Regions from separate parts of the Homo sapiens genome. Here region 1 is linked to region 2. Evidence: fine-mapped expression QTL. A gene starts in region 2. The other region holds a variant in brackets. All regions are shown on one strand. Distances are from middle to middle. Region 1 holds the start of USP51 (ubiquitin specific peptidase 51). Region 2 holds the start of MAGEH1 (MAGE family member H1).

Region 1 (5,371 bases), 38 kb after region 2:
CTTGTCATTATACATTTGTGCTTGTCAGAGAGGAAGAAATCTTTCAGTAGAGGAATATGGGTAAGTGCCTGGACAATACAATTCATAAAACAAGTGTTCCCAAGATTGATTAGCCCTCTCAGGCCTACAGTATAGACTGACTTTTTTCTTCTCTTTTTCTTGGGTTTCACCAATTTTGGCTCCTGTTCCTTTGTCTCACAGGTTGATTGCTTGTCTTCAAACCCTGATGTCATAAACTGTTGATGAGAAACATCTGTTGAGGTGGAAGTTAATAATCTCAAAATTTTTTCTTTTGTTTCTTTGGCAATCTGTTCTATGTCTTTGTCATATACATAATCCTTACACATGAAGCAATATATGACCCCATGATAAAGGTCTACAGCTAAATGGTGCTGCTTTGTTTCTGCATGTTTGTGAATATGTTTCTCAGTGAAGCAGCCAAAAAAGACACAGGAGAGACAAGAGTGGAGTCTGTTCATATGGGTACTACATACGTGACAGATGCATGACTTTGCTTTACGTTTCCTAGTCTCTGGGGTCCCACTCCAAACGAAACGCTGGTAGATCAACCTCAGGTTCTTCTGCCAGTTCTTACCTACTTTAAAGCTCTCCACATGAGAGCAGCCTGTGGGACCCTGACCAAACTCGACCTCCAGCAACCAGTCCCCTAAGCCGCCAGGATCCCCCGACCCGTCTAGGTCACCAGAGCAGCTTCTCCGTGTCTGAGGCCTGGACCCAGGCCGGGATCTGCGCCGGGATCCACGCCAGGCCCTGGGCCGCGGTGCGGGTGGGGGCGGGGGTGGCGGCGGGGGCGGGGGCCGGGCTGGAGGCGGGGGTGGGGCCGAGAGCCCAGGCTGGCTGCGGGAGCGGGCCCGGGGCTGGGGCCGAGGGCGGGGCTTGCGGCGCGGGCAAACGGGCGAGGAGCTGCTGTGACAGCGAAGGGGGATTGAAGGGAGCACCTTCTCGTCGCCGCCGCTGCTGCTCCACGTCAAGTTCTCCTCCGGCGCGGGCTCACGCTCTTGTAATGGCTCCAGCTTCATCTCCTCGGCTTCACGTCTCGAAGACGCCTTCGTAGCCCCCGCCGCCGCCTCCTCCATTTTCCCCGCCTTCTCAACCGCCTCCTCAGGAGAGGCTCCTCCCCCACCTCCGGAGATCCAGCGGACCCCAGAGCCGGAGGGCAAAGAAGTTTCTCGAACCTGGGCCATCAGATCACTCCCCGACCTGAGGAGCAAGGCGTCTGGAAAACAGCTGCGACTGTAGATGAAAGGAGACAGAGACTTCTGTGAATGATCTGCCCAGCGTCATGGCCGCGGTGCGCAGTTAGCGCCCCCAGGACCCCTCCCATCGGCCCTTGAGCTCAGCCCGCGGCTTCTGTCGGCTCCACCCACTCAACTGAGAGGCCCCTGGAGCTGATGGGGAGACCGAGGCGGTTACCTGCTTCAAAGGCGATCAGATCATGCCAGGGGACTGGGAACAGAAGGCTAGCGAGCGGTGGGGGTGGGGAACGGCCTGAGCTTTAGGACAGAAAGGATGGAAACTTCTTTAAAAAAGGCGCCACCCTCTGACTGCTTTTTTGCGCCCTGCGCAGCCTCGCTTTGGTGCAGCTTCCTCTGACGTTCTTTCCCTGTATCCTAAAAAACACTTGGGTCAACATTTTCTCTCCAAAATGGCTGAAAGGACGCACTTTTGGAAAATGAACTCACAGGAAGAAAGTGTCCCTCTGTTTCTACCTAACCTATACTTCTGTGACCCGGTGTGTTCCACTCTAAGCCGTTGCCCCTCAGCGCACTTTCGGTCCACCCAGCTCTTGCGCCCTCTCACGCTTTTTCGCGCTTGTGCTCTCACACCCCTTTTCTTGCTTCTGCGACTTCAATTCCTATGATTTCTCCTAGAATTCGGATTACTACTCCCTCCCTTCACGCATTTGCCACCTCTATGGCCACCACTATCCTCGCGCGACCCCCGAAGTCTCCGCTCCCTTTTCCCTCTCCTGCCCCCGCAACACCCCCAGCCCGGCAGTTTGTTTAAAGGTCTGGGTTACCTTGGGCCCCAGGCGCGTGATATAGAACGTCAGCAACTGCTGCTGTCCAGGCGCTCCTCAGCCAGCCTTCTCTCCTGACCTCTCCTCAGGGCTGGTCACAAGGGGGCCGCCCCCTGGCCCCTCCCCTCTCGACGTGCGGCCCCCAACCCCGGATTCTGCCCTCCTGCAGTGATGAATGGCACCGCTGTCCCGCGCAGGCAGGCAAACCTCTTCCTGAAACAGACTCTGCTGGAGGCAACAGCAGCAACAGATTCTACAGAAAGCCCCTGAAATGGAGGCTCAGGCCTCACCTAGCTCCAGGCCCGCACTCCACAGAAAAAAAGATT[C/G]ACCCGGCGTGGGGGTGGGGGCTTCCAGAGATGGCAACCCTCTGGCAGGAATCCCTCAGGATCCTGTCAGAGCCTGGTCTCTGGGAGTTGACGGAGGGAGGGAGGGAGAGAGAGAGAGAGAAAGAGAGAGAGATTATCCCAGAATGTGCAGGGGAGGAAGCATAAGCAAGGGCTCAGGCTCAGAGAGACCTGAGCCCAGGCACATGCTTGCTGTGTGACCTCGGATAAAACACTTAACTTCTCTGAGCCTTAGTTGTGTCAATTTTTAAAGAGAAATTGAAATAATAACCCTAGCCCAATGTGAACACTGAGTCATAGTATATATCAAGTAAAAGACCTTTTTGGCGAGCTTTATCTGTCACACCTCTTTTTTCAGTCCGCTCCTGAAAATCAGCATAGAGAACAACTCCTGATGCAGAGTAGAGGAGAAGAGAATGCCTTTCTCTTTCAAAGCTCTCTCAAAGTTATGGCTCAGTTCACCCGATCATCCATCCTAGGCAGTCCATATACAGGAGCATGTATTCAACAAAGATGCCATAGGTGCATTATAGCGCTAGATTGTGCTGGGAGAAGCACAAGATACAACTGTTTGTGTCCTGAAGTCCATACGCCAGGAGACTTTTCCTTTTCTTTGACAGATCCGGCATCCAAGGCGACAACCCGGAGGAAAGCTATCTCCAGGGCTTGTTGCCCTTCCGGTCCAATCCCAAGAAAATTACGGTTTATTACAGCGGATGTTTAATGCTACATTTAATCTCTCTGAGAAAGTCACACACCTCCCCTCAAAACCTCACGATTAGGATTCAGCTCTCTTAACTTGGCAGTGGCATCTAGTGGATACCTCCGCACAATGGATATCACTGATTTTGTGACTTGGTTTAGATTCGACCATATCTCAGTCACATACTAGCACCCGGAGGGAAAGTGCTTTGGAATTATAGACTGGCTTGTGCAGGAAAACGTGCTTTTTCTCCCCTAGGGAAGGGCATTTTCTCAGCCACAGCTAAGCAAAGAGTTGCTCCACTCTGGGTTAGCAGCCCTAGAAGGAAATGCTGAGTCAGTCATTTGCTAGCTGTGCCACCTGTGGCTTGGATCCCAGCTGCTCTGAGACAGCCCTGCACCCTTTATGCAGGCAGGGAGGCAGGGCACAATTTATAAATACTTCTGTCTTCTGAGCCTTCGCTTTCTCCTGTGCAAAATCAGAATCATGAGAATGCCAGCCCTACCTAGATTGGTTTATTCAGCAGATATGTAAAGAGCACCTACTGCTGCACTGGGCACTATGAATATACAGCCAAACAAAACTGGGCACAAAAGCAAGTAAGCCAGAGTCCCTGCCTGAGGTCCACATCGGGAAATGCATAGGAATGTGCTGTGAAGATTAATGTTAGTTAATAAAGGCCTAAAAACCACTCGTAATCAACAACTTAATATTTGGGAGGTGGGATTGTTACAGTGCTTCAAAAAGTTTCTGAAAACAGTTGTTATTGAGCTAGACACGCCTTTAAATCAGCCCACACGCTATCGTGACCAAACAAACGATTTCTTCATTGACAATTGTCCTGTAGGAAAACCTCAGGACAGCGTGATGGGTCACTACTGTCAAAATGAAAATGAATGGGTCTGCATGGTTTAGGCCTTTCTGGAGTTCACTGGTTCCTCCAAAATGAAGCTGCGTCTAACCTTCTGGTGGACTTAACAGACTGCTAGACCCCACTCCCAAAGTTCCCAGTTCAGTGGGTTGGGTGAGGCCCAATAATTTAGGTTTCTAACGCTGTACCAGCTGATGCGGATGCTGCTGGCGTGGAGATGGTACTTTGAGAACCACTACTGTGGGATAATGTGTAAAGAAGCCCAGGTCAAGGCACTCTGGCCTTGGTAGCAGGAGCCATGTCTGATGGAGCTGGTTTCCCAGGCCTGTGTTATGTTGGCGTCTCTTACAGATTCTAGCTGTGGCAGGTGTGGCAGGGTCCTTTGGGAGTGGGGTGGTGTATGAAAGAGCAGGATTGGGAAAAAGCCTGCCTCTGTGCTCCTGGTGGCTCGCTCAGTACCTTGAAAACTGGACCCCTGAAGCCTCACACAGCCTTCTTTCTCCCAATCTGGGCCTCTTCCCCTCAATGACCTCGCTTCTCAGAGGCCAGCATCCCAAAGGGCAGACTTGGAGCCATTACCTGCCCCTGACTAGGGCTGCAGGGAGGGTGCCATGGACTGGGTTCCAGTCCTTTGGGGCCCACATTTGTCTGCCCAGCCTCCTGCCCCTGTCCCCTCACTGGATGGATCCCCTCTTCTGTTCCTTTTCTTCCTGTGCTCCAGCTCGTAGCTGGTCTGCCTCCAACCTTCTGAAGCAACAGCCTCAGACACCACTGGAGTGTGCCCTCTCCTGCCCACAGACCCATGGTGACTCCCTGTGGTCTCTTGGTTAAAATGGAAACTGCCCAACTTACTCCAACTCCCCCCCACCCCCACCCCTGAGTAGGTCCAACCTCAGCTTCATTTTCTGCTTTTGTGGGCTCCAGCACTTCAACCACAGAAGCCTCTGTATTGTCCGTGCACATGAGATTACATATGTGAAAACATGCGGCCTGTCAGTCCATTGCCTTCCCTTTGCCCTTGGATGTTCATTTCAAAACATCCCCTAGAGTAGGTGTTTTAGTTGGGGTTCTCCAGAGGGACAGAACTAATAGGATATATGTATCCTACACACACACACACACACACACACACACACACACACACACACACACGTATATGTATACATATGAAAAGGAGTTTATCAGGGAGAATTGGCTCAAATGATCACAAGGCGAAGTCCCATGATAGGCCGTCTGCAAGCTGGGGAAGAAAGCAGCCAGTAGTGACTCAGTCTGAGTCCAAAAGCCTCAAACGTAGGGAAGCCAACAGTGTAGTCTTCAGTCTGTGTCCCGAGGCCCAAGAGCCCGCCTGCAAACCACTGGTGTAAGTCCAAGAGCCCAAAGGCTAAAGAACCTGGAGTCTGATGTCCGAG
Region 2 (5,371 bases):
AAAATGATGAAATGTACAAAATTAAAATAAATGAACTAGAGTTCCATGTATTTACATGGGTAAACATAAAAAATATAAAGTTGAGCTGGAAAACCAAAGTGTTGATCAATGTATACATTATGAAGACGTGCTTTAAATAAAGGAAGAGATTCTATATTGTGTACAGACACAGAAGTAGGTAGCAAATATATACAAGTCTCCATGGGCATAATTGCTGACTTCATTATAGAGGAGCACAGTGGGGAAGGAGAGAGCAGAGTGGGTCAGGGAAGACGTAATAGGAGGGTTTTGCCATATCCAATATATAAAAGATAAACAGTAAGTAGGGCCTAATATTTAAATTTTATACAGCTAGCTATTGGTGTTTATAATATTAATCTCTCTTCTTTGCCCTACGTTTGAGATTAAGTCGCAGTAAAAAAAAATTCATGCTAAAAACAAGCAAATAAACTGCAAAAGTAATCCTCCCATTTTTGTTTCATGAGGGTAGGATTGTACATGCTATAGACTTCCATGCAAGACCCAAATTCCTGGAAACAGTAAAATAAGTTCATACCTGTACTGAAAAACAATTCAGAGCAATTATCAATGGACCAGAAACTGCGAGAATTCTCAGAATGTGGGACAGCAGATGGAGCCAGACTACTGTTTTGAGTAGGTCATGTCCCAGAACGCGTGCAAAGGTTATCCCAAACGGAGGGCTGGCTCAAGAGTGCTCTGTGTCCTGGAGAGGTGCTTTCTTTGCTTGACCAAATTGATTTATTGCTAACTTACCCAACAGGAGGTCTCGGTGGGCTCTAATTATAAAGAAAATTTCAGCAAGACAGGCATAAAGTATTCATTTGTTTCTTAAGAGTTCAGTTAAGAACACCTATAAAATCTTTTCCATCATGAATTCCTTCAGCACGCATTTATTAAATGCCACACTCACACACCGCTTGGAAAACCTTGAGAGGCAAAATCTGTGCTTACCATGTAATAAATGCTTTTCATTTTTTATCTCATTTAATTCTCACAACCCTATGAGGGCTGTACTTTAGCCCCACTTTATAGATGGGAAAACAGGCTTAGAGAGAAGTGACTTGCTTAAACTAATACCTTGAATGACATAAGAAAGATATAGAGTGCTAGTTATAGGGCTTTCCTCAATGGAGTAAAAATGGACTCATTACCCTTTTGGGCAGATCAAGACAAGCTTCAGGGAGAAACAGGTCTGTGAGCAGTCAAATGGAATTTAGATAGTTGGAGAAGGCTGAGAAGACAGGTCAGGCAGAGCAAACAGTGAGCAAAAGCAAGCAGTGGATAAAGTTCAGAGTATGCTCTGAAAGAAGCAAAATAAATCAGGAGTCCAGGAAGACTGGAGCCTAGAAACCTTGGAGCCAATCTGAACTCCATCATCCCCTCCACATTCCCCACTTCATCCATTCTGTCTGCAAAGCCCTTCAACGGTCACCTTTAAAATGTCTTTCTGCCTCTCCATCCCCATGGCAACAGCCTTAAGGCATACTTTAGTTCCCAGTGCTTCTTATTCCAATTGCTTCCTATGTGGTCTGCCAGGAAACAGTTTGCTTTTCTGAGAGGCTGCACAAATGCAATTCCTCTGATCCTGTCACTGCCCTGCTTTCATACATACATACATACATATATGTGTGGTAGATATATGCACTGTATATAAACATAATGTGGTAGATATATGCACGATATAGGTATGTATGTATGTATGTATAAAAGCAGGGCAGTATATATATCGTGCATATATCTACCACATTTTAAAGGCTCTGCACCTCTTTCACCCTGCTTGTTTCTGCAGTCCCATCTCCTCACATCATCCAGCACATCTGCCATAACAATATTATCCGGGTCCTACATGGGACCACAAATTGATTAGTATACACACAAATGCCTTCTGAAAACAGGGCGAGTGAATGAACGCGCTGTGTAAGCCAAGACAGGAAAGGAAGGCTGGAGACAGCTGACTCCTTCCAAGAATACACCCTCCCGCCACCCCTGGCCTCCCAACCCCCAACACACACACAGCCCGTCGTCAGTGGGAATGGAGCCGACGCACTCCTTCCCTAGACCGTCGAGCCAATCTTGGAATGTTTGTAGTAGGCTGAAAATACAGAAACTTTAAGCTATTTTTTTCTCTTCTGCAAACTCCAGGCCCCTCCAATCTCTAGCTGTCATTTCTGCCCTTGTCCCACCCCTGTCGCTGCCTGCCCCTTTTCCTATCTGCTAGCGGAAGTCCCTGTGGAGGACCAGCCTACTTCCTCTTTGGTGCTAGGAGTGTGCGTGGCAGGAGAGGCGGGGCCAATTTTGCTGAGCTTTCTCGCGGGCTTGCAGCTGCGGCAAGTGCTGGCGGCGGCTGCTCGCGCAAGTCAGCTGGCGTGGGAACTACCCTTTGTAGCTGAGAACGGCTTGTTTATTGCTACAAAGACTCTATTGACATTGGTAGCTTCAGCGGCAGCAGCTTCTTACGGTATAAAGCTGTTGCTTCCTGAAGAGGCTACAAGCATCCTTCCCTAGGACTGCTGTAAGCTTTGAGCCTCTAGCAGGAGACATGCCTCGGGGACGAAAGAGTCGGCGCCGCCGTAATGCGAGAGCCGCAGAAGAGAACCGCAACAATCGCAAAATCCAGGCCTCAGAGGCCTCCGAGACCCCTATGGCCGCCTCTGTGGTAGCGAGCACCCCCGAAGACGACCTGAGCGGCCCCGAGGAAGACCCGAGCACTCCAGAGGAGGCCTCTACCACCCCTGAAGAAGCCTCGAGCACTGCCCAAGCACAAAAGCCTTCAGTGCCCCGGAGCAATTTTCAGGGCACCAAGAAAAGTCTCCTGATGTCTATATTAGCGCTCATCTTCATCATGGGCAACAGCGCCAAGGAAGCTCTGGTCTGGAAAGTGCTGGGGAAGTTAGGAATGCAGCCTGGACGTCAGCACAGCATCTTTGGAGATCCGAAGAAGATCGTCACAGAAGAGTTTGTGCGCAGAGGGTACCTGATTTATAAACCGGTGCCCCGTAGCAGTCCGGTGGAGTATGAGTTCTTCTGGGGGCCCCGAGCACACGTGGAATCGAGCAAACTGAAAGTCATGCATTTTGTGGCAAGGGTTCGTAACCGATGCTCTAAAGACTGGCCTTGTAATTATGACTGGGATTCGGACGATGATGCAGAGGTTGAGGCTATCCTCAATTCAGGTGCTAGGGGTTATTCCGCCCCTTAAGTAGATCTGAGGCAGACCCTTGGGGGTGTAAAAGAGAGTCACAGGTACCCCAAGGAGTAGATGCCAGGGTCCTAAGTTGAAAATGATGTCGATTGGGGGCGGGGGACACTGTATTTGATATTTGTGATCAGTGATCATTGTTCAACTGCGAAATAGAGTGTTTGCTTTTGATAATGGAAAATTGTATTCGTTTTAAAATTCCGTTTGTTGAGAATAACAATATGTTTAAAAATATAATTGAACAAATTTTTTTCTTTGTTTCCTGTCATTGACATTTAGTATAACAGTTTTGCTAACGTTCTAAAATGAAGTCGTTCCATCATAATCTATGATCTTGTACAGCACTTATAGAAATAAGCTGTTCTTTTGAAGTTGAAATACCCAGTAAAATGTTGAAGAAGGATGGAGGATTTCTTCATATCTGACGTTTCTGAAACCCTTTGTGTCTGCTGTTGTGTGAAGATTGACATTTACCATGATTTTCCTTAGTTACTGCAGAACATAGAGAAAAATAAAAGCCTAACGAATAGTACATCTTGCGCATTTTCTGACCACCTGTTATGTGAGGCACCAGTCTAGATTCTAGGGATACTCCCTAGTACACATCCTCCAGGTCCAAAGAATGTTCTAGATTATGTGGGAAAGAAAAATAGGTAAACTGGCAGTGCAGTAAATGCTGGGATAGAGAACGAGCCTGAAGTGCCATGAAAATGTAAAAAACCTTATGTGACCTGTCTTGGGGAGTGGGCCGGGGAAGGGAGCACCATAGGATGTGTGAAAATTCAAGAGACACTTAAATAAGTTTGGGGGGGACTGAAATATACGATCAGAATATATGATGAAAATATTATGTATTAGATATTTGATTGGATACTCCACCCAGCATAGGGGAGGGAGCACTGGCAAAAAGAAGAGGACATCACAGGGTGCCTGCCACGGAAGTAGAAAATACACAAAAATCATCTTGAGAGGAGGAGGGCAGAGAGAAGGGGTGGTTGCAGGGGAAAAGGTTGTCATGGGGTACTTCAGAAATAAAAAAAGATGAGACCGTCAGAAAATCTTGGTGAGGGGACAATCTGAGGTTTGGAAATAATAGAGAAGAAGGGGAGGGAGTAAAAATGGAGGCACTGAAGGTAGCGTGGACATTTGGAAATAAACTCTTCACCGAACTGTTAAGGTTATATGAAGGGGAAAGTGGAGAACAAGGAATGAGGCAAGGGAAGAAGTGAGCGGGGCAGACCCTCAAAGGGTGGGTGTTGTGGCTGACTTTAAACTAATGACAATAAAAATGGTTAATAATAACAACCCTGAAATAATTCGAGAAAAGGCTATAAAAAAGCAGAACTTCTGAGATACTGGATGAGCCAGAGAAAAGGCTCCACCTGTGGCATCTCCGAAAGGTAACCTTGCACTTCTCTCAGGAACTATGGTTCGTTAGGGTGCACACATTGTTTAAAAGTGTGTGTGTCCAAGGGGGCAAAGGGGCAATGGAGTAAGTCCGGATTGGTACCTGGCACGATGGCCCATGCTATACTAAGTCATGTGGGATCAGGCGCAAATCCTACCACCTTTTCTCCAAGAGCTAAGCACTGCATGAACTAGGTCCCCTGCTGGGGAGCACTAGTGACAAGTGCCCAACCTAGCCCTGTGGGGCTCATGGTAGCAGCTATAACACACAAAAGAGTGGTCAGGCTACCTTCTTCCTTCTTGACATCCAGGCTCACGCTGCTTCCAGCTGTGTGCAAAGTAACGTCACTAGGTGCAGGGTAGGCTAGCAAATGACCTTCTGGAGAAGGCCCAGGGACCCACTCTCCTCAGCTTGCAGGCCAAGGAGGCTTCAAACAAAAGTAGTAACTATGACCCCATCAGCAGCTCCAAATTCATTCAGCAAGCCAGAAAATGGTGAGCGCCTTCTGGGATTCAGACAGTGTGTTAGAAACTGGAGCTGCAGAAAATCAAAAGGCCTGTTCTTTGCCCTGGGAGGAGCTGTATTTATCAATACCACCTCCAGAGGTAAACAAGGTGGGAATCTGAGGTCCAGGTTCCTCGGTGACTTTCTCTTCTAGAGCCACAGAAGTGGCAAGAGAGAGATCCTAGACAAGACCCTATGTCCATTCCCTGCAAACCCACAGTGCTTTCCTCTAGGCCACC

What was found. PIP is the estimated chance that this variant, and not a neighbour inherited with it, causes the effect. A credible set is the group of variants that fine-mapping cannot tell apart.
Region 1: its variant is the best candidate, but not a certain one, in a credible set for the expression of MAGEH1 in blood mononuclear cells (TOPMed, PIP 0.65).

What each region holds. Positions count from the first base shown.
Region 1 is chrX:55,487,735-55,493,105 of GRCh38, forward strand. USP51 (ubiquitin specific peptidase 51) reads right to left here and starts at 2,114. Exons shown (of 3, transcript NM_201286.4): 1 at 2,042-2,114; 2 at 1,435-1,631; 3 at 1-1,254. The coding sequence starts at 1,205. LOC101928692 (a long non-coding RNA gene) reads left to right here and starts at 1,207. Exons shown (of 2, transcript XR_244468.5): 1 at 1,207-1,312; 2 at 2,131-3,779. RefSeq lists enhancers at 670-1,529, 1,047-1,486, 1,707-1,806 and silencers at 797-876, 2,197-2,306. The variant C/G (reference allele first, on the strand shown) is at 2,368.
Region 2 is chrX:55,449,815-55,455,185 of GRCh38, forward strand. MAGEH1 (MAGE family member H1) reads left to right here and starts at 2,313. Exons shown (of 1, transcript NM_014061.5): 1 at 2,313-3,752. The coding sequence starts at 2,561. The coding sequence ends at 3,220. MIR4536-2 (microRNA 4536-2) reads left to right here and starts at 1,681; the gene lies at 1,681-1,768. It overlaps MIR4536-1 (microRNA 4536-1), which reads right to left and starts at 1,768; the gene lies at 1,681-1,768. RefSeq lists enhancers at 2,526-2,575, 2,726-2,775.